Linked DNA regions of Homo sapiens. The protein of the gene in region 1 interacts with the protein of each later gene in a biochemical or structural test. Each region holds a gene or a part of one and is shown in the gene's direction. Other genes may lie near its edges.

Region 1 (7,380 bases):
TAGGAACAATAATTCTAGGTTGACAAGGTTAACTGCAGAGCCAGGGAGAGACTTCTGTGATGTAGCTTTTCAAAAAGATTTAAATTCATTATATTACAGTGTGGTATCAGACTCACAGGCCACAACTCATGTGTAGCCTTGGAAAGATAAGAAGGTATAAAGAAAACCAAACCTTTCCCTGCAATAAATTATGTATCCTGTCCCCAATCTCATGAGGAGGGAAAAAAGTTTTCTACTTGATCTTTATGGGCCTTCACGCAGCTAAATGAACTAAACAATACATAAATTCTGTATTCCTAAGTTAGTCAAACGACTTTATCTCAGTAAAGGAAACTTTTTTCCCCTCAAAAAGGCACCAGCATTCAAAGAATCAATCCTGACCCACAATGGGAACCCTACCCAAAACTAAAAAGCTTTGGCTGTAATCAGACCACTCTAGAATATACCTTATTTAACCAGCATTTGGCTTCTCTCTCTCTTTTGAAATTAGTAACTATTATTATAAAAAACCCGCCAGGCACGGTGGCTCACGTCTATAATCCCAGCACTTTGGGAGCCCAAGGCGGGTAGATCATGAAGTCATGAGTTCGAAATCAGCTTGACCAACATGGTGAAACCCAGTTTCTACGAAAAATACAAAAATTAGCCAGGCATGGTGGCGCTCACCTGTAATCCCAGCTACTCAGGAGGCTGAGGCAGGAAAATCGCTTGATCCTGGGAGGCGGTAGTTACAGTGAGCCGAGACTGTGCCACTGCACTCTAGCCTGGGTGACAGAGCAAGATTCCATCTCAAAAAACAGACAAACTGAAACAAAACAAAAAAAAAACTGGCAAATCAAAGCACCACCATGATTTCTTAAGAAAAGCCCAGGCAGAGGCCGGGTGCGGTGGCTCACACCTGTAATCCCAGCACTTTGGGAGGCCGAGGCGGGCAGATCACGAGGTCAGGAGATCGAGATCATCCTGGATAACACAGTGAAACCCCCTCTCCAGTAAAAATACAAAAAATTAGCCGGGCGTGGTGGCAGGTGCCTGTAGTCCTAGCTACTCAGGAGGCTGAGGCAGGAGAATGGCGTGAACCCAGGAGGCAGAGGTTGCAGTGAGCCGACATCACGCCACTGCACTCCAGCCTAGGCAACAGAGCGAGACTCCGTCACAAAAAAAAAAAAAAAAAAAAAGGAAGAAAAGTAAAGTCCAGGCAGAACATTATTTTTATAATACAAAAGGCTTCATTTCTCACAAGCTAGCCTCGTTCACTTATCTGTATCCTCTTATTTCACCCTGACACCCTATGCTTTTAGCAAGGTCTTCTCACTCCCATTTCACAAATGAGGAAACAGGCTTAGAGGAGCTAAATGTTAACTGGTCACACAGCTACTTAAGTGGAGAGCTGGGATATGAACCCTAACCCCTCCACAATCTGGCCCCTCTTGCAGTTCTCCTCACACAGCCCCCTCCTGTAAAGCACCTCTGTATGATAACTTCCCTTGCTTTACAAATATTAGCCTCGTTCTCACAGCATCTCTTACAAAATGGCAAAGTAACCTATGGAAAGACCTTGTAACTTGCCACCAAAGTATTATATCTGTGGGGTAGGCAGCTAAAAACAAAGAAGCAGCTTGCTTTTTATCATACCCAATTGAGATGTTTCAGTTTTTGAAACTTTTAGAAAAATCTACTCAATGCCACCTCTAGGACGCAAAGCTTTACCCTCTGCTCCTGAATGTGAAAGTCAAGAGAATAGAGGACATTCTTTGTCAAGTATTCATTTTAATCTTCCACAGAATTTAATTCTTACCCTCTGGTCTCTGAATTGTTAAATATTAAATTGTTAAAAGATTACTGTCTTACAGAGAACAGAACAGCCTGAGCAATGATCCTCATAATCCTTCAAAATAAAATGTGGCAGAAGAAAGTGTGATATGTATCCAATTAAACCGAACATATGGCTTATAGCAAAAAAGAGGCTTTGACTCAACGGTTTAACCTCAATACAAATAACTAAATTTTAATAAAGCTAAACAACGTTTTAGAAATTTTGTTTTTTTTTCAAACAGGAAACCAAGCCTTTAAATTCTCAACCCTTAAACATTCTTTTCTAAACTGGGGTGAAATCAATTATTTCAGAGTGTAAATATTCACAATTTTCTATTTTTTGCTAGGCCAACAGTTGGCATTTATTGAGCTTTTGTTTTTTGATCCCAGGGTGGATACTTTGTTTACGAATATAGTGAAGCACTCACTTGTCATACAGACCTGGATTCTGTGATTTTGCCACCTATCCCATATGTGACAGTGGGTAGTTTAACCTCACGTGTTTTCCTAACAATACACTGGGCATAAACACCTATTTTGAAAGGCTGTTGCAAGAACGAGTAATGAATGTAAAGCTTTTAGCACATTGTCTGACACATGGTAAGCCTTCAGGGTCAAGCTATCGATTTCCCAGAGAAAGGTGGCATTTTCTTAGTATTCATCAAATAGAATGTCTTAATACTACACTGTGTTAGCATATTAATGTTTATAACGGACTAAAGCATTCTACGAAAGCAGCAGGTCATCAGAATAAAATCAAGTTTTCATAACAGTAGAATTCAAACATGGCAGTTGTGGTTCACCAAACTGCTTCAGGGATTAAGTTCTGGAAGGTAATTTCTCTAAATATGATGACTATGTCTCTATGTGCCTTTCTACCAAGTGAACAACTCAGAACGTTTTACATACAACCGAATACAGATTATTTTTATTTGTAGTGTTATCGTGGTTTTGTAACTGAAGGGGACAGGTCTATACTTTTGAAGGGGATCTTGTCTCTTGAAAGGCTTATGTTACTAAGTCTAAAATCCTGTTTCCAAATGAGAATCTTGCTCCCCTCCAAAAAGGGGCTTATGGAGGGTTGGTGGAATTGAATGCTTCCAAACTTTACATTAGTGAAGTGTGTTCAAAAACGTGTGTGGATGCTATGCATACACGTGATACTTCCCATCACATTTTAGGATTCCCACGTTGGAGGGAATCAATTACTGGTATTTGTAGCAATGGGTGGAAAAGATGGCTTCAGTCGATCTGAGTTACTGCAGTTTTCTCCATCTTCTGCTACTCTGCAGCCCCATCTTAGCCTGTCCTCCTCTTAATGGTACGGCCCCCTGTACTCCCCCAAACCCTTTCCTTTCTAGCCCGGCGTAGAGTCTCCCTCTGTGCTCTTCCTCCCACCCACCCCCATCTTCTCCACCCACTCCCTCTCGGCCCCCTCCCACCCTTTCTGCTAGAGCTACAAACACTTCCTATTTCTAGTCCCACCCACTTTCTGGGACTTCTCAATCCGCTTCCCCCCTCTTCTCCACCCCCCTCCAAATTACAAGCTGTTTTAACCCCTTTTCCTGCCTCCCAGGGAAACTATTCTTTAAACCGCCTTCCTCCACACCACCCACTGGAGTGGTCTTCCAAACCGTTCACCCTCTTCCCAAAGATTACTCTTTAAACGTCCTTTCTCTACCACCCTCGTTCTCCAAATTGTTCCCGGTTCTCAAGTACTCCACTCCTCCAGGACCCCACCCCACTCGTCTCTCGGCTTCCCTCCCACAAAAGAACCTGGAATGACTCTCCAACCACCCTTCCAATTACCTCTCCCAGAAGCCTCCCCCCTCCACGATTACAAATGTTACCTGGAACAAAACCTCACGGTCCTAACCCCCACCCCGAACTCCCCTTTCTGCTCTTCCCGCTACTTCCTAGGTTCCAGTTCTACTCCGCTCCCGCAAGCATAGCGGGCTGGGCTCCCTCCCAACCCCGGGAAGAGCCCCTTCCCGCACGTACCTCGAGATTCCGGCCCTCGCCGCCCCCTTCTCCGTCCTCCGCCCGCGCTCGGCCACCCTTTCCGCCCTTCTCCCGCTCCGCCCCGCTCGCTCCCTTCCTTCCCTCCGCCTTCCGTCTCCACACCGCTCCCTTCCCCCACACTCCTGGCCCTCCCACCCCGGAGGCCCCTCCGGGCTTGCCCCCACCTCCGCGCCGCCCTCCCGCCGCCCTCCCCCTTCCCGGCCACCCCTCCCCCGCCCGCGCTCCCCGCCCCTCGGCTCGCCATTCTTCTCTCCGAGCCGCGCGCCCCGCCCGGCCCCGGCTCCCTAGCTTCCCGCTCCCTCGCGCCCTCGCCCCCAATCCCGGCTCGGCCCTCGCTCCCCGCAGCCTCCCGTGCCCCCCGCCCGCGGCCTGACCTGCAATGGCGGCCGCCGAGCGCGGCGCCGCGCGGCCAACGGGCGACAACCGAACCTCCCGCCGCCGTCGCCGCCGCCGCGAGCACTGCCTGCGCACTTCCGACTATGCGCCAGGAGCACTTCCGGGGCAGAGCCTGAGAGCGCGCGCGCACGTGGGGCCGGGGCGGAGAGAGGCGAGCACCGGGAAGGGGAGCGTGGGGCCGCTGGTGAGTTGGGGAAGGGGCGTGGGAAGCGGCTGCGAGAGCTGGGGGGGTCTTACAAGGTGGCCGGCCCAGGGTCGGCGTCCGGCTGAGCTCCTTGTCCCGAGGGTCTCCTTGTCCCGAGGCGGGGTGGGGGCTACTCTGTAGACTCGGGGAGAGGGAAGGGGAGGCGAAGACCGCGCGCGCCTCAGACGCCCCGGCCCGACCGAACGCGCTTGCTCTGTCTGCGGGTTCCTAACCTTGAAGCTAGGCCAGTGAGGGGCGAACAAGACCTGGTCTCTACTCTCGGCCAGTATATATGTTGGCGGGCGTCGGGGGGACGGGGTAGGGTAAGTGACAGACGTCAGACCAGGCAGCCAGATTAAGTCAAACCCTGTCGTTTCTTCCTCAAGAGGAGCTCGGTTCTGCCTGCCCCATCAGCCTCACTGTCACTACCTCAGTTTAGGTCTGTTGTTTGCAAACTTAGCAATAGAGTTGAGGAGAGATGCTTGCTAAAATGCGGATTCCTAGGCGCCCCGAGATAGGAACTCTGGAGCTATGGAGTAGGACCCTTTTTGATTTTTTGCTGAAGCCTCCTTATTATTCAAGCCATTCTGAGCTTTTGAAGATTGAGTAATTCTTGTGGGGGGCATTGTTAGCAGCCATTTGGAAATGAACTTCAGGGAGATGTTGTTGGAGCCTTCCAGCCAGAACAGTGATATTAAGGAACTGAATACTATATGTGACATACTGCAGTTAACATATAGCAATAATGACTCTCTTTTCGCCCCCTAGGAATGGGTGAATTTAAGGTCCATCGAGTACGTTTCTTTAATTATGTTCCATCAGGAATCCGCTGTGTGGCTTACAATAACCAGTCAAACAGATTGGCTGTTTCACGAACAGATGGCACTGTGGAAATTTATAACTTGTCAGCAAACTACTTTCAGGAGAAAGTAAGTCATTTGGGAGTCTGATATGGTGTTTTGATGTTAATTTCTTCTGAAGTTCAAGAAGCTTGTATGTCTTTTATAATCAAACTGATTGAGTGACTTCCTAGCCCCTCTGAAGTTGCTTAGAACTACCAAACTTCTGAGATCTCCTAACTGATAAGAGAAGCTCAGTTTCAATCTGTGTAATGTTGATTAGAAGGGTCCTACCTAGAAATGTGACATCTCACTGCCTGTCATTGGAAACTGAGGTTTGCTGGATCTTTTGGACACAGGAAGGGAAATTGTTGGTATATCAGTCTCAACACCATTGCAGCTTTGGTAAGCAAAATTTCCTGCAGGGAGTATCAGTACTGTTTCATTGTCAATTCAGAAAAAATGATAACACGTTTTAATATCAGAAACTTTTTGGTGATGTGGGAAGATGGATTCCAAAGTTCATCTGTCTGAGAGAATGTAGACCTACATGTCTACATTTGGGAGTAAAGGAGATTTAAAATTAGGTAAAATGTCCTTTGGGTGTATGCAGAGGTCTATTAGTCCTTTTTCTTCTCCCCTCCAAGGGCACTGACTAGTGATTTTCTTCGGGTGCAACATCTTAGTTCATGTTGAATGACTGTTATGTACTGGGTGCTGTGATATAAATGAGTAGATGGGCAAATGAGTGAATTCAGTGCCCAGCAGCCTGGTACCTGGAATTTAGGCATTCTGTAAATGTTTCTCGGTGAATGAGTGGCAAATACTGGGCACTAAGACAAATGTCAGAGGCCCTAACTTTACGGAGCTCAAAGACCAGTGGGAGAAAGATAAGTGTACAGTTTCCAACCTGTAAAATAAATATGATAAACCGAAACACAGGCATAGAACCTTCATTGAATTGCCTTCAGGGAAGGCAATTCAGAGAATTGCCTTCCCTGAGAGGTGGGTTTAGGAAATGTGGAAAGGGATGATTTACTGAGCTCACCCCTGAAGAACTAATCAAAAGGTAAAAACTACAGGACCACCACAAATGGGTTACATTCTGTGGTATGAAGAACATGCGCTGGCGTGTGCTTATTGCATCCTGTGATTTTCTTTTTTTTTCTTTTTCTTTTTTTTTTTTTTTTTGGAGACGGAGTCTTGCTCTGTCACCCAGGCTGGAGTGCAGTGGCGTGATCTTGGCTCACTGCAACCTCTGCCTCCCTCTCCTGCCTCAGCCTTCCAAGTCGCTGGGATTACAGGTGTGCCACCATGCCTCGCTAATTTTTTTATTTTCATAGAGACGAGGTTTCACCATGTTGGCCAGCCTGGTCTCGAACTCCTGACCTCAAGTGATCTGCCCACCTCAGCCTCCCAAAGTGCTGGGATTACAGGTGTGAGCCCTCATACCAGACTGATTATCTTTTTCTTGGTCTTGTTCTTCTTCTTTTTTTTTTTTTTTAACAGTCATGGCCATATTATGATTTTTCTGTTTGTCATTTGTAACAGTTATAACTATATAATTTGTGTGTTTGTTTAATGTCTTTCTTCCATGCTGAACTTCCAATTTTATGAGGATAGGAACCATGTCAGTGATACTCACATCTGCATTCCCACCATTTATCAAGCGCCTCCTACAAAGCCACTGCTTAATGTTTCTTGAATGGATAAGTCAACCATTCCTTACCTAGTGTTCCTTATTTTCTTTTCTCCTTCATCTGTTTTCTTTATTCTTCAACAATTAATTAACTCAGGCTGGTTTCCTGCTTTCCCTATATTCCCTTTCCTACTAGATACGATTGCTTAGCTCTGTCAGTGACTCTCAGAGCAAGAAAAAATTAGTACGTTAAAGTGAAAAGAGGCAGGGCAGAGTGGCTCACACCTGTAAACCCAGCGCTTTGGGAAGCCAGGGCAGGTGGATCACTTGAGCCCAGGAGTGTAAGACCACCCTGGGCAACATAGTGAGACCCCATCCCTAAAAAAATAAATAAATAAATTAGATAGGTGTGGTGTTGTATGCCCATAGTTCCAGCTACTTGGAGGGTTGAGGCGGAAGGATCGCTTGAGCTCAGGAGGTTGAGG
Region 2 (7,022 bases), on another chromosome or scaffold:
AAAGGGAGGTGATAAATTGGAATGCAATGACCTTAAACCTTGCTTTACTAATTTTTGTGTCTGTCTGCTGTTTAAAGTTAACATTTGAATGAAACACTTTTTTACTAAAGTATTAGAAATAGGAGTGCAGGTAAAGGCTAATCAGAGGTAAGGAGTGGAGTCTGGGCACGGTGGCTCACACCTGTAATCCCTGCACTTTGGGAGGCTGAGGCGGGTGGATCATGAGTTCAGGAGATCAAGACCATCCTTTCTAACACGGTGAAACCCCGTCTCTACTAAAAATACAAAAAATTAGCCGAGCGTGATGGCAGGTGCCTGTAGTCCCAGCTACTCGGGAGGCTGAGGGAGGCAGGAGAATGGCGTGAACCCGGGGGGGCAGAGGTTGCAGTGAGCATAGTTCATGGCACTGCACTCCAGCCTGGGCGACAGAGCGAGACTCCGTCTCAAAAAAAAAAAAAAAAAAGAATGGAGTCCGTTTTTCTGTAGTGCTACAGGGACAGATAAAAGAATATCAGAATATCACGGGGGTAGGGGGTGAGGTGGGGAAGCCAGCGTTGTTCTTTTTCTTTTTTTTTTTCTTGAGACGGAGTTTTGCTCTTGTTGCCTAGGCTGGAGTGCAATGGCACGATCTTGGCTCACCGCAACCTCCGCCTTATGAGTTCAAATGATTCTCCTTCCTCAGCCTCCCGAGTAGCTGGGATTACAGGCACATGCCACCATGCCTGGCTAATTTTTGTGTTTTTAGTAGAGATGGGGTTTCTCCATGTTGGTCAGGCTGGTCTTGAACCCCTGACCTCAGGTGATCTGCCCGCCTCAGCCTCCCAAAGTGCTGGGATTACAGGCATGAGCCACCGCGCCCAGCTGCCAGCGTTGTTCTTAGAGCCCAGAGATGGGAGGAAAATTAACCAGAGGCAGGTATTTGAAGGCAGTGGGACAGGAAGAGGCTTGTTCTGGACTTCCAAATGGCTTCCTTTAAAAAGAGGCATTTAAATTTTTCCAGTTGCTTTTTATAGTTGATCTAGGATAGAAAAATTATGGCCATCATGGTTTCCTTTCATATTGTTAAAAATGATCAAGGGGACTTTAAGATTTTATGAGAAAGGCAAATTACCATTGTTTTATTCCTCAGTGAACCTGGAGGAGCCAGACCTTTATCAGTCGTGTTGTGTTCCAAATATAACAGCTATATTCTCAATACAAAAGACTCTGATGAGAGCAACATGGGAGCAAAAAAGAGAATGTCCTACTTTCATTTTTTAAATATGTTTCAGAGGACTCATTAACAGGAAGTATATTTAAAATGCAAAAGGTCAACTTTGTACTTTGTTCTACTGGTCTCTGGGAGCTGGGAAAAGGCTTCTCTGCCTCTTTGGGGCCTTACAGTAAGGGTAGATAATATGCTAGCATCAGAGGATAAGATTCAGAGGAAAGCCTCTTTAGCCTGGAGATACGTGGTAGAGGCATTTTTAATTTCCTGTCTACTTTATATGGGATATTGGCCTTATCTGAAATAGTTTGATCAATACAGAAAAGTGCCACCTTGCAGTTTCACTCTCTTGCCCTTATATCATTTTTTTTATAAGCCTATTATTTTTTCCTCCTAGGACATTGAGGGTCTTCTGTGAAAATTCGTGATGTTGTTAGGCTATGTTGCAGGTAGCCACTGCCACTGGGAGTACTTGTAAGCAGATGTGTGTGGTGCAGTGGCTAAATACTGAGGCATAGCTGAGCATGATTTGCGTGTTCGTCATCTCTAATACGTTAATAGTGCCAAATGATCATTTTTTTCTCTAGTTGCCTGACCTGGTACCCCAGCTGGGGACACTCTACCAGTTAATGGAAAGCAGAGTCAAAACTTTTCAGAAACTTTCACACCTTCATGGAAAGCTTATTCTTCTAATTACACAAGTGAGTAAATCATATTGTTCTGGGCTAAAACTTTTGGACATGGTAGGAATGGAGAGAGGAATAAGGATCATTTTGAGACAGGGTCTTGCTCTGTCGCTCAGGCTGCACTGCGGTAGCATGATCATAGCTCACTGCAGCCTCGCTCAAGTGCCTCCCAAGTAGCTGGGACTACACGGATGCACCACCATGCCTGGCTAATTTTTAAATTTTCGTAGAGATGGCATTGCCTAGGCTGGTTTTGAACTCCTAGGCTCAAGGGATCCTACCACCTTGACCTCCCAAAGTGCTGGAATTACAGGCGTGACCCACCACGCCTGGCTGAGAGCTCCCTGTTTCAGTAAGAAATTGGTAAATCAGGATCTAGTCTTTAACTTGGAAAGCTTATCAGTTTGACAGTAAGAAAGTTTAGTTGTGTCTGTTTCAACTTTTACTCAAATCTTTTTCTCACCATTGTGTTTCAGTTGTTATACAGTTAGTAAGTTATAGGATATTTATACAGTTAAAATTTTGGCACAGAAAGATATTCTAATCACCTCAGAGTTTTTCAGCTTTACAGAGTAATTCTTTCCCTCTTGTATTTGAAGGACTTTTTTGCTCTGTATTGTATGAAGGTCCTCCATTATGGTGGTGGAGGGTGAGTTAGCAGCAAGCAGTGGGGAAGGTTGGGTATGCTGGTGGTCGTGATACTTGGGATATGTTTACACTCTACTTCAGAACAGTACTTTATCTTCTTCCAGGTAACAGCATCAGAGAAGACAAAGGGAGCAACTTCCCCTGGACAGAAGGCAAAGTTGGTGTATGAAGAAGGTAAAGACTGGGGGAATGGGATGGAGTCTAGAATTATAACATTCAGTTTTCAGTGACTGAGTTCTGTTATCTTTTTGAAAACGTCAACATAAGATCTTCCTTTGGCAAGCCTTCTCTAATTAAAATAGGCAAGTCCGTGGCAAAAATCTGTAATTCATCAGATAAGAAAAGAAAAGGCACAAGTATAATACAGTGACAAAAAAGGGCATTAGTTATGGAAGATTTTTTTTTTCTTTTCTTTTTTTTTTTTTTTAAGACAGTCTCAGTCTGTTGCCTAGGTTGTAGTGCAGTGCTGTGATCACAGCTTGCTGCAGCCTCAACCTCCTGGGCTCAATGCAATCTTCCTGTCTCAGCCTCCTGAGTAGCTGGGACTACAGGCGTGCACCACCATGCCCGGCCAACTTTGGTATTTTTTTGTAAAGACAGAGTTTCACTATGTTGCCCAGGATGGTCTCAAACTCCTGGGCTCAAGTGATCCCAATGTGCTTGGATTACAGGTGTGAGCCACCATGCCTGGCCAGGTATGGAAAATATTTAAATAGAAGAACATTATATGAACAAACTTAGTGTAAATACATTTAAAAGTCTAGGTGGTATAGTTAATTTTTAAGGAAACATTAATGACCAAAATTGACTTTAAAAGAAATAAAAAGTTTGAAAAAGCCAGTAGCTCTAAAATTGACTTTATAAAACTTCTCACAAGATATGCCCAGATATTTTGAAGGTTATTTGATCAGGCCTTCAAAGAACAAATCTTTTCTTTTCTTTTTTGCACAGACTCTCTCTGTTGCTCAGGCTGGAGTGCAGTGGCTCGAGGTCAATCATAGCTCACTGCAGCCTCAAACTCTTACACTCAAGCGATCATCCTGCTTCAGCCTCTAGAGTAGCTGGGACTGTTGAGCCACCATGCCTGGCCAATTTTCTTTTTTTAAAGGTAGAGATGAGGTCTCTTTGTTGCCCAAGCTGATCTTGTACACCGTGGCCTCAAAAACGGTCTTCTCGCGTCAGCTTCCCAAAGTGCTGGGAATAGAAGCATGACCCACAACACTGGGCTGTCCTTTTTGTCATGTACTGGCAATTTAGTCATTTTATGAGCCAAGTATAATCTTGATAACAAAACCTGGAAATGTCAAAAAGGGAACATTTTAGATCATCCTCAAATACCCTGAGTAGCAAATTGATTATAGAAGTGTAGGGTTACAGAGTTAATGTGCAATAATAGACAGCTAGACCAATAGATTGGCAATAGCTACCCCTGAAAAACCCGTAGTTCTGTGGACTCTTGGTGTGTTTATTGATGGTGTGTATTGTATCATTGTGGAGAAGATAGCCTGCTCAGTAAGTTGTTAGAAACACTGATAATTTATATGGAACAAAAAATTTTACCATTATCACATCACACATCACATTCCATATTGTGAGAAATGGATAAATTTGAAAGAGTGAAAATGGTCAGGTGTTGGCCATGATTTGGGAAATGGGAGCTCATGCTGTGGTGGGAGTACATGTGCATTCTTTTTAGAGAGCAACTTTGTAATCTCAAAGTTGACAATTTGCATATCCTTCCATTCATCAAGTGCAGTCCCAAAGTGATCCCAAAGTGCTTGTGTGTATCCCAGTGACCAATACTTCTCCAAGTATGAACAGAGGACCTGTGGGGATGCCCAGAACTCTTTGAGCGGCTCATGATGTCCTCCGCTTTTCAATCGGTCATCTGTGGGAGGCTAGATTTTCTTCATATAGTTCAAATAAAACAACATATCCAAAAAATAGAGTGGAGAAGCAGATATGAGAAGTTTTTAATAGTGCCATTCTACTTAGTAGAATTTGTTGTTGTTTTGGAAATTCCATTTTTCAATTTTAGTGTATGTGCTGCCGAAGAGAGCACAGAAATACTGTTTTTCATTAAATTGATTTGTGTTAACATGTAATGGATGGGCATTTGTAAACAGATTAAATATTCTTAAATTTAAAAATTGAATTTGAATGTGATAAATATAGATAGACTTTTCCCACATAAACAAAAACTTTTTGGAGACCTCAGTTTTTTAAGAATGTGAAAGCATTTTAAGGCTAAAAGGCTTGACAACATAGCTTTAAAACATATATGTAGAGATTATATAAGTATGTTCATTGCAGCCTTTATAATTAAGAAAAAGACTTGTGAACAACATAATTCTTCATTAGTGGGAGCATGTTTAAAATGGTTTATTCCTTTAGCATAACACTACATTGGTGAGAGTGCCTGGAGTTGAGATCGAGTTAACACGCATAAGTTTGATTACAAAACCAAGTCAAAAAATGATACCTTCTGTGTAGCATCGTGTAATTGTATTAGTAAGCAAAATAAGGGTGGCTTGAACATAAGCTCCGCGATACTGCAACATTCGATTTGATAACTGAGGTGGCTACTAAACGACTAACGGGTGGCTAGTGTAGACAGCGAAGCTGGACAAAGGGATGATTTACCTCTCCGGCCAGGCGGAGCCAGATAGCACGGCACTTCATCACGCTGCACATAACAGGGCGCAATTTAAAACTTAGGGATCCTGGATTTGGTACATTTTCCATTTAATATTTTTGGATTGCAGTTGCCAGGGGAAACTGAAACTGGGGAAAAGGAACACATATTGGGGGAACTGCTGCATATGTCTTTCATGAATATGTACATGTGTAATTCATGGGTAGTATGATGTATGTGTTATAACAGCATACTGGAGAATGAGAAGCTCACAATAGTGGTTTCTTTTGGGGAATGGGCTTAGGGAGATGGGCATGTAAGGGAACTTCATCTGGAGATAATGATTTATTTTCTTAAGAAAAAGTAGATAGAAGAAGAATGTTAGAATATCTTAAAAAAATAGGAATCCCATTCTGTATTATTGGATAACATTAGCACACCTAATGAAATCAATTCCTTAGTTTTATCCAATGCCCAGTTTATCTTCATCTTTCTCCAGTTATCCGTAAAATATCCTTTAAAGCTGTTTTTCCCAAACTAGACTCGAGTTTTGCATCATGGGGTTGAATCTGGCTACTGTGTTTCTGAAGACTCTTTTTAGTCTTTAAGAACTCCCTTTTTCATGACATGGACTTGGTGAAGAGACTGGGAAGTGTATTTCACAGAATGCCCCACCTTATGTTTGTGGATTTGCTTCCTTTTGGTTTCTTTTAATTTGCTCCTCTAAGCTACAGTTCCTTTAAACTGGATGTGAGGCCTAAAGGTTTGATTGGATTTTATTTTTGGAGGGTTGCATCAATGCTGATCGTTCATATTGCAGCACACTAAGAACCACATTGTGCCTGTTATCAGTTTTTTCCTCTCCATTGTGAGATATATCTTCCTTAGTGCTTAGAAAATAATCTAGCTGTGTTAATTTTTGTTTTAACGTTTGCATGTTTTCCCCCAACAATCATACATCTAATATATCAGTTGCTAATATTTCATTATTAGTACTTTATGGGTTAAATAATGCTAATTCTTCCATTTCGTTTATAAGCCAGCTTTTCTGTGTTGAATTTTTCCTCATCCACTGGGGCTATTTGGTGGCCCTGATAGGGCTTAGTATTTAAAGATGAGATTTTTGTAAGGGTTTGGCTAGTTGGTTTGGACCGGTGAGATCTTGAAGGAATAATATAATGAATATACTTTTATACATGTAAGAATAAATTAGCCAGGTGTGGTGGCTCATGCCTATAATCCCAGCACTTTGGGAGGCAGACGTGAGCGGATCCTTTGAGTCCAGGAGTTTGAGATCGGCCTGGGCAACATGGTGAAACCCTGTCTATACCAAAAATTAGCTGGGTGTGGCGGCTACTCAGGAGGCTGAGGCAGGAGCCTGAGGCTTGAACCTGGGAGGCAGAGGTTGCAGTGAGCCAAGATTGCTCCACTGCACTCCAGCCTGCAAAAAAAAAAAATAATAAAATAATGTTATTTCTTAGTTGGATGATTGCTAAATATAAATAATATTTCTAAAAGTAAATTCAGGAATCTGGTTCTGCTTAATTTCCAGGCTGTACCCTCTGTTTTGTTCTAAAATTAAGGCTGGGTTCTTTCTCCCCTTACAGAGTCTTCTGAAGAGGAGTCTGATGATGAAATAGCAGATAAGGATTCTGAAGTGAGTGATTTGTTCCCTGTATATACATCGGCCTTTATATCCTCATACTCTGTAAGAATGAGACCTTCATGAATGCTTTCCTTGTTGGTATTTCGACTAGGATAATTGGGATGAAGATGAGGAGGAGAGTGAAAGTGAAAAAGATGAGGACGTTGAAGAGGAAGATGAGGATGCCGAAGGAAAAGATGA
Region 3 (7,437 bases), on another chromosome or scaffold:
AGTAAGAGTTCTATGTCAATGTCTACATTTGAAAAGAAATACATGAGGTGTAATAGCTTCAATTAAACTATTTATCAAGTGATACTAAATTGTTTTTATCATTAAAGTCCATACTTCCTTGTTTGCATAATGGTTAGTCAAAAAAAAAAAAAGTCTAGGCTGGGCATGGTGCTCACGCCTGTAACCCCAGCACTTTGGGAGGCCAAGGCAGGTGGATCACCTGAGGTCAGGAGTTCAAGACCAGCCTGGCCAACATGGTGAAACCCCATCTCTACTAAAAATACAAAAAATTAGCCGGGCTTGGTGGCAAACGCCTGTAATCCCAGCTACTCGGGAGGCTGAGGCAGGAGAATTGCTTGAACCCAGAAGGCGGAGGTTGCAGTGAGCCAAGATCTCGCCACTGCACTCCAGCCTGGGTGACAGAGAGAGGCTCTGGCTCAAAGAAAAAAAAAAGTCTACATAACCATAGTGAAAGTTCTGGAAGAAAATATATTAATCTTGGGTGATGTTATCCTAAGAGAATAGTTTTATTATTCAGGGTATCATTATAAAAGCAAATCTAGAGCATGATGACAGACTTCACTGCATTAAAGCACAGAAAGTAAATGCATATTAAATATTCATAGAACAGGAATATTCAGGAATGGATATTACGCTAATTCATCTCTAAAAGGAACATGATTTTTTTTCTTATGATTTTATTTTTTGAGACAGAGTCTCACTCTGTCACCCAGGCTGGAGTACAGTGGCACAGTCTTAGCTCACTGCAACCACAGCCTCTGTGGTTCAAGCAATTCTTGTACCTCAGCCTCCCAAGTAGCTGGGATTACAGGTGGACGCCACCATACCCGGCTAATTTTTGTATTTTTAGTAGAGACGAGGTCTCATCATGTTGGCCAGGCTGGTCTTGAACTCCTGACCTCAAGTGATCTGTCCACCTCGGCCTCCCAAAGTGCTGGGATTACAGGCATGAGCCACTGTGCCTGGCCCTATGATTTTAAAAGGAATAATAGGGAACTTCATTAGGGAATTTGTAAACAAATATTAAACAAGAAGTTTTTAAAAAAATCAACATGTACTTCCTTTAAATTAGATATTATATAATCTGAAATTATTTTAATTTTGGTTTCTATGAGATTCCAGAAAATCATATTAAAAAATGACTTCTAAACTGTCTTCCCAAACTCAAAATCTCATGATTGGGAAAATAACCCAAATATACAAAAACAAAAACAAATGCAGATATTTATACCATAACTTTCAACCTTTAAATAGGACAGATGCCACCTCCAGGTCAGAGTTAACCTGATCTTGAATATTTTTACTATCTTCTTCATTTAAGGACTTCACAAATCGAGAACACACATTCATATCAAATCGGTTAGGCAATATGAATTTCATTCCCATGGCAACACCCTGAGCTGACCCTTCTTCTGAATTTGGGTCCAGTGGATGTTCTATTTTAATGTCTGGCATGCCAGTTAGGCTATAAGTGCTGGGACACTCTTCCACGATAAGCTGGGCTCCAATATCCAGATTTGTTGATGTATCCATGATTTCAACTGTAGTTTCAATAACTAAAACATTTCTTCATGATTTCCTCTTGGTTTTGTAAGAGCAGTATCCAGTGTGTTCTTGGAATCTGGATATTTAAAAATCTGAAAGAAAAAATTAGAAAATTAAAAGTATTCTATCAGCTTAGGTAAAAACACACAAAATAATCATTTTCAATCAAGTATTGTAACAATGCTCTTGAAAGCACCTACACATAATAGAAAGAATATAATGTTCAGAGGTAGAGAAACCTGGGTATGAATCCAAACTTTGCCATTAATTAGCTGTGTGACCTGTAGAAGTTACTCAATCCCTCTGAGCTTCCGTGTCATTTATAAAATAGGGATATCACCATTAACCTTATAGGGTTCTGGTAAAGACCAAATGAAATACTGTACAGTGATATTCTCACCTCCATCATTAAATTCCAATACATTTTAGTTACTGTTTCTCCCATTTCCTATATCTGAATATCACCAAATGGATAAAAGATCAGGCTAACAATGAAAATAAACTTTAATCTCTTACCTAAGGTTAGTTCTTTAATATGCTATGTTTATATAGGTGGCCCTTAGTTTGAATTTAAGAAATGATAATTCATGTTGTATCCAAGTTTATTGGCATTGTCATCTATAACACCTGTGATTCCTAGACCATGAAAGGCTTTACAAAGCTTTGGTTTTGATGAACTGAAGGTACATTTATGAATTTTTGTTCCGATTAAGCATTAGCAACTTAATGTAGGTTTTCATGAAAAATAAAGTAGGTAGATTATGGATTGGCTTTCCAAGATGTATAGTTGTCTTAGATACATTATCATTTGGGACAGAAAGGAAATTAATAACATCCAGTTAATTTTTTCATGTTAGGGTTAATTGCCTCTTAGGAATTTTGAGAGGGTGCAGGGTGTTTCAAAATTGGAATTGGAATTAAAAGAAAAATGCATTAGGATCGCAGTGGAGCAAGGGTCGCGAAACCATACATTTACAGATAACCACCTTCTACAATTTTAAAAACATTTTCAAAGATTAGTCTTTATAACAATCCTTTGAGTAGGCAGGTCAGGTAATCATATGTCCACCTAGGAGGGGTAAAAAAGGAAGCTCATGAATTATGAGGGCTTACTCAGCTCTTCTGACTCCATCACTCTGACCATTAAAATGAGGCAGCCCTAAACAAAGCCAAAATCTCCACGAGAGAGTTGAATAAATAACACATAGTATAGTAAGGAAAAAAAAAAAAAGCAGGAAGTAAGAAGGTTAATACATTTGGGCAAAAAGAAGGAAACCAGAAAAGAAAATTAGTTCAGTGATTCAAAGGGAGATGGATGTGCAATGCATTAGTCCATGCGTCTTAAAAGGGACTGGACAATGTGAACTGTGTTTCCTGAGGGAAGAACCATCTCCCCCTTTCTCCTATCCAGCGGTTGGCTAAGTGCAACTCCCCTAAGCTCTCTGAGCACCCTGCATGTATCTGTATTTTAGCATTCACCATCCTTTTGACAATTTCCATTTAAATAACAGCTAAATTGAAAACTCCCCTAGGATGGGGACCACTCTTACTAATTTTTGCACACAGAACAGTACTTGGTCCTACCAGGTGCTCCATAAATGTTTTCTGATCTTAACTTTAACAATTTTTTCCATATTCTTTTCTATTTCTAACATTTGCTGATTAGACCTGGCTTTCCACTCCCAACATCGCTACTAACTAGCTGGCCACTCCTGGACAAATAAATAATACAAGTTTTCTGAAATTCATCTATTATAAAAAGGTGTTGAAATAGGCCTTTCTAATATTCTTTCCAGCTCTAAACAGCTTCCATGTTACAAATCAGGGTTTATAGATGGAATTACAGGTCTTCGAGAGGAGAATAGCAAATGTGCTTAGGCGAAGGGGGTGGGTGGAAAATGAACGCTTATCTTGGCACAGCAGTTTAACGAGAGGAGAAGCAAAGTTGATTGGTAGGCCAAAATTTTGAAGAACAGGAGAGGGAGGCGGGGGTGAGGGGAGTGGGGTAACAGGACTTAGAAGAGGTGGTGGTGAGAAAAAGGGGGTAAGGCAATCGATAGCTAGGTTCACCTCGATCTGTCAGAGCCCAGGGATGAAGGGATAGAGAGTCTACGGAGATAAAGTGGGCAGCTATGCTAGTTCCTGTGGATGCTAATAACAGGAGCCCCTCGTTTCTTCCTGATCCTGGAATTATTCTACAAGGAGAGGAAGGTGCTATGAAAATAAATGATGCCTCACAGGCGACAGGTGTCCCAGCGTCCCGAGACAGGAGCCCGCTGTCTCCCGCTGGAGGGGAGACTCTTGCAGGAAAGAAAGTCCGTTCTGTCGCCACCGGCCAGCTGTGCCCGAAAAGTCCCAGGAAGAAACTCTCGCTCATCCGCGGCGAGCGGATCCCGGGCACAGGGGCTGGAGGCCGACCCGGTGAGAGTGCAAGGTCTCGCGACCACCGACGACAGCAGACAGCGAGTCGGGCCTTCCCATCTGAGGCCAGCTTCAGTACAGGCCTCCAAGCCCGGGCTTGTTTTGGCCGCGACGTCACTTCCGATTTCTTCTTTCGCCTTCTGGCTAAAAAACGTTCCGCAGCAATGCAGCTGAAACTTTCGGGTTTTCTTTTTTTTGTCCCTCTCTCCTTTTTTTTAATATTTTTGTTTTTGCCGCCTTTACGCTCCGAGGCCCATCCTGCCGGAGTACTACACAGACAGGGTCATTTCAGTTGACGGTTCTGGGTCACCAGAGCAGAGGAAGCCCCAATTTCGCCCTCCGGTCACACCTCCTACTCCAGATCGCCCCGCCCACCTGACCCGCCTCTGCGCCGCCGGGCTGCGTGAGTCTCATGAGCGTGCTCTGGTACGTCATCTTCGCGCGACGTTCGGTTCGCTGTGTGTGTCGCCGGCTCCTTGAGGGTCCATGTGATTTTTACGCCAGTGCTGCTGAACTGTGCAGGGTAGGGAGCTGGCACAGTCCGATTAATTGTCCTTGGGTCGAGGTGTCTCGTCGGACCCTTTGGGGCTCAGTGGAGGTAGGTGAAGGCGGCTCCCATTGAGGGAAGCCCACACTCACACCCGGCCTTCCTGTGTTAATCTGGCATGCTCTTCTGGGGCTTCCCAGGCTATATAGGAGAGTGGCCAAATTCTTTAACCGGCTCAAGTTCCCCTCAATTAAGCTTCGACCTAGGTTCTTCTCTGCGATTACACCCTTTCCTGTCCACCGTTGTTAGTTCCCGGAGTAATCAGCAACTCTCCAAGGCAATGGACACATTTCCATCTTTGCCTTTGCTTACGAGGCTCCCTCAGGTGAAGTGAACCTAATGGAGTTTTAAAATATTTGGGAGATAAAATCAGCAGATCTTGTTAACTATTTGGATGTTAGGAGTGAGGAAGAAAAGGACACGTCAAGGCTGAGTCTAGGTTAATATCTGGTGCCAGTCACCAGCCAAAATGGAGTATATTGGAGTAAGCAAAGGCACAGACCATGTCTTTATTTCATTCACCATTATAGCCCCAGTGCCTAGAGCAGTGTCCTGCACATTGGTAGGTACTTTAATGAACAGAAGAGTGTTCCCAAAGACCAGTGAAATACAATCATTGGTCATTGTATTTCATTAAAGCACCTTTTAAATATATGTTACACCTATTTATCGTGGTGTTACTAATGTAAAGTTTTCAGGCTTTTTGGAATAGATGATGAGCAGCACCTCTGGAATCATTTACCTGATAACATTGAATCTCTTTTGCAATTGAGTCGTTCTGGAAAAATGTTTTGGCTTGATTGCATGTTATTTAAAAGTTTTATCCTATTCTGCCACTTTAGTGTTGAATTTAATTTCAGGACTGCTTTATTACAGTTTTCTTTCCTACTGTTTAAACCTTTTAAAGTAAATTTAATTTTAAGCTTCTACATTAGAATATTAGCTTTGTGTTTCTTACTTCTTGGCATTTTTAGGCTTTCAGGAAATCAAATCCGTAACTATAATTGTTATAGATTAAATGTCATCTTAAACTTGGTTTCAGGAAACTTGTATTTGCAGTTTCACCTTAATATTTCCTGTTGCCAAAAAATGGACACTCAAAGCCAGCATGATCCTTTTTGGTTTGGCTACTGTAAGGCTGTGCTAGATTTATTCCTAAGTGTTGTAAAATGGTTGGCTAGGTGTGAGAACCTTTGTGTACAGCTGAATAGATGGTGCGATATGATAGCCTTCACTTTAATTATTCCTGCTTCCTATAGATTGCCTTTTCTGGGTTAGAATTAAATGGCTTATTGGTCTCTAATCTATATACTTCCACACAGACTTTTTAAAGAAAGCAGAGTGAAAATCAACTATGTGTACAAGCTTATAATATGTATATAAAATATTTTATTTTTCAGAATTAAGGCAGAGTCACTGTAATTATTTCTAATACCAATTCCAAAATAGTGACTCTTGGACAATAGTGCAATTATATGGAATTATGGCTGGTTATAAGCCTGTAGCTATTCAGACATATCCTATACTTGGTGAAAAAATCACCCAAGATACACTGTACTGGAACAACTATAAGGTGAGTGTGGGACGTAATGAGGGAGAAGGGATTTGTGTTTATGCCAATTTCTCTAGCATATGTTATACTCTGGATGCTCTAACAGAGAATTATTAACTGAAAACCATCTATCAGCAGCTTATAGTTTGGGCAGATAATTTGATATCTATTTTTTCTTGGAATTTTATGTAAAAGTCCATACTGCTTAATCAGATTAACCATACAAATGCCTAGCACAGAACAGATGATCAATCAATGCCAAATGAATTAAATTTTAAAATTTGAATCTCATATGTGTAAAGATGTTTATTGAAGTATTGCTTGTAATAGTAGAAATCTTGAAAAACCCATGTCTATTAGTAGTGGACTGGTATAGTAAATTACAGTGTGCCCTTATAATGGATGGTAAGTCTATTGCTCCTATGAAAGCTAATATGTGTTACTAAGTGAAAAGAAGCAAGATGTGGAACAGCCTACATGGTATGATTATCTTTTTGTTATTTTAAAAGTACAAGTACGTGGTTATTGTATGCTGGTGTAGACATGATAACTTTTTTTTTCTGGTAGAAATCACAGTAAACTCAATAGCTGAAGAGACAGAGTGGGGTGTGGCTTTCTAACCATATGTTTATTTCAGTGGCAACAAGAATAGTCTGGGTGATGAGATATGTACCTTTTTTGCTTTCTTTGTAATTTTATGTTAAATACAACTTAAGAAATGTTACTAAGAACAAAGAGAAACGGTCTGTAAGAAATTATGTAATGCATAAATAGGTCTTACCAGTGGTAACTCTGTTAACACACTATTATTTTTTATTAAGACCCCTGTTCAGATTAAGGAATTTGGTGCAGTTTCAAAAGTAGACTTTTCTCCTCAGCCTCCATATAATTATGCTGTCACAGCTTCCTCAAGAGTAAGTATAATATTAAATTTCTTTATTTTTCTTTTGTATAGTTTACTACTGATCTTGAGCCATCTGGTGAAATACTGTTTTTCATCTTGTAGATTCACATTTATGGCCGATACTCCCAAGAACCTATAAAAACCTTTTCTCGATTTAAAGACACAGCATACTGTGCTACTTTTCGACAAGATGGTAGATTGCTTGTGGCTGGCAGTGAAGATGGTGGAGTTCAACTTTTTGATATAAGTGGGAGGGCTCCCCTCAGGCAGTTTGAAGGCCATACAAAGTAAGAGACAGTTGGTTTCTGTGTGTTCTGGTTTTATTTTGTTGTAAGCTCTTTTTTTCTCTGGACTTTGGTTAAAAAGATAGAGATCAGTTTTATGGAGATTATTTGCCTATAGGTACTATATTTCCTGATTGTTCTAAGAGTGCTTAACTTGGGTTCC

The links. Proteins that work in one complex are often made in the same cells at the same time.
Region 2: the proteins of UTP4 (region 1) and WDR43 form a complex in vitro, tested with the Homo sapiens proteins (one study listed by IntAct).
Region 3: the proteins of UTP4 (region 1) and UTP15 form a complex in vitro, tested with the Homo sapiens proteins (one study listed by IntAct).

What each region holds. Positions count from the first base shown.
Region 1 is NC_000016.10:69,128,273-69,135,652, forward strand, and holds the start of UTP4 (U3 small nucleolar RNA-associated protein 4 homolog), read left to right. Parts: upstream 1-4,376; 5' UTR 4,377-4,417; intron 4,418-5,185; 5' UTR 5,186-5,187; coding exon 5,188-5,346; intron 5,347-7,380. UniProt on the Homo sapiens protein: Ribosome biogenesis factor. Involved in nucleolar processing of pre-18S ribosomal RNA. Part of the small subunit (SSU) processome, first precursor of the small eukaryotic ribosomal subunit.
Region 2 is NC_000002.12:28,939,667-28,946,688, forward strand, and holds part of WDR43 (WD repeat-containing protein 43), read left to right. Parts: intron 1-1,794; coding exon 1,795-1,908; intron 1,909-2,645; coding exon 2,646-2,715; intron 2,716-6,783; coding exon 6,784-6,833; intron 6,834-6,933; coding exon 6,934-7,022. UniProt on the Homo sapiens protein: Ribosome biogenesis factor that coordinates hyperactive transcription and ribogenesis. Part of the small subunit (SSU) processome, first precursor of the small eukaryotic ribosomal subunit.
Region 3 is NC_000005.10:73,561,328-73,568,764, forward strand, and holds the start of UTP15 (U3 small nucleolar RNA-associated protein 15 homolog), read left to right. Parts: upstream 1-4,415; 5' UTR 4,416-4,585; exon of another isoform or gene 4,586-4,859; intron 4,860-5,934; 5' UTR 5,935-6,017; coding exon 6,018-6,107; intron 6,108-6,907; coding exon 6,908-7,000; intron 7,001-7,092; coding exon 7,093-7,277; intron 7,278-7,437. Other genes in the region: ANKRA2 (ankyrin repeat family A protein 2), read right to left, coding at 1,266-1,554. UniProt on the Homo sapiens protein: Ribosome biogenesis factor. Involved in nucleolar processing of pre-18S ribosomal RNA. Required for optimal pre-ribosomal RNA transcription by RNA polymerase I.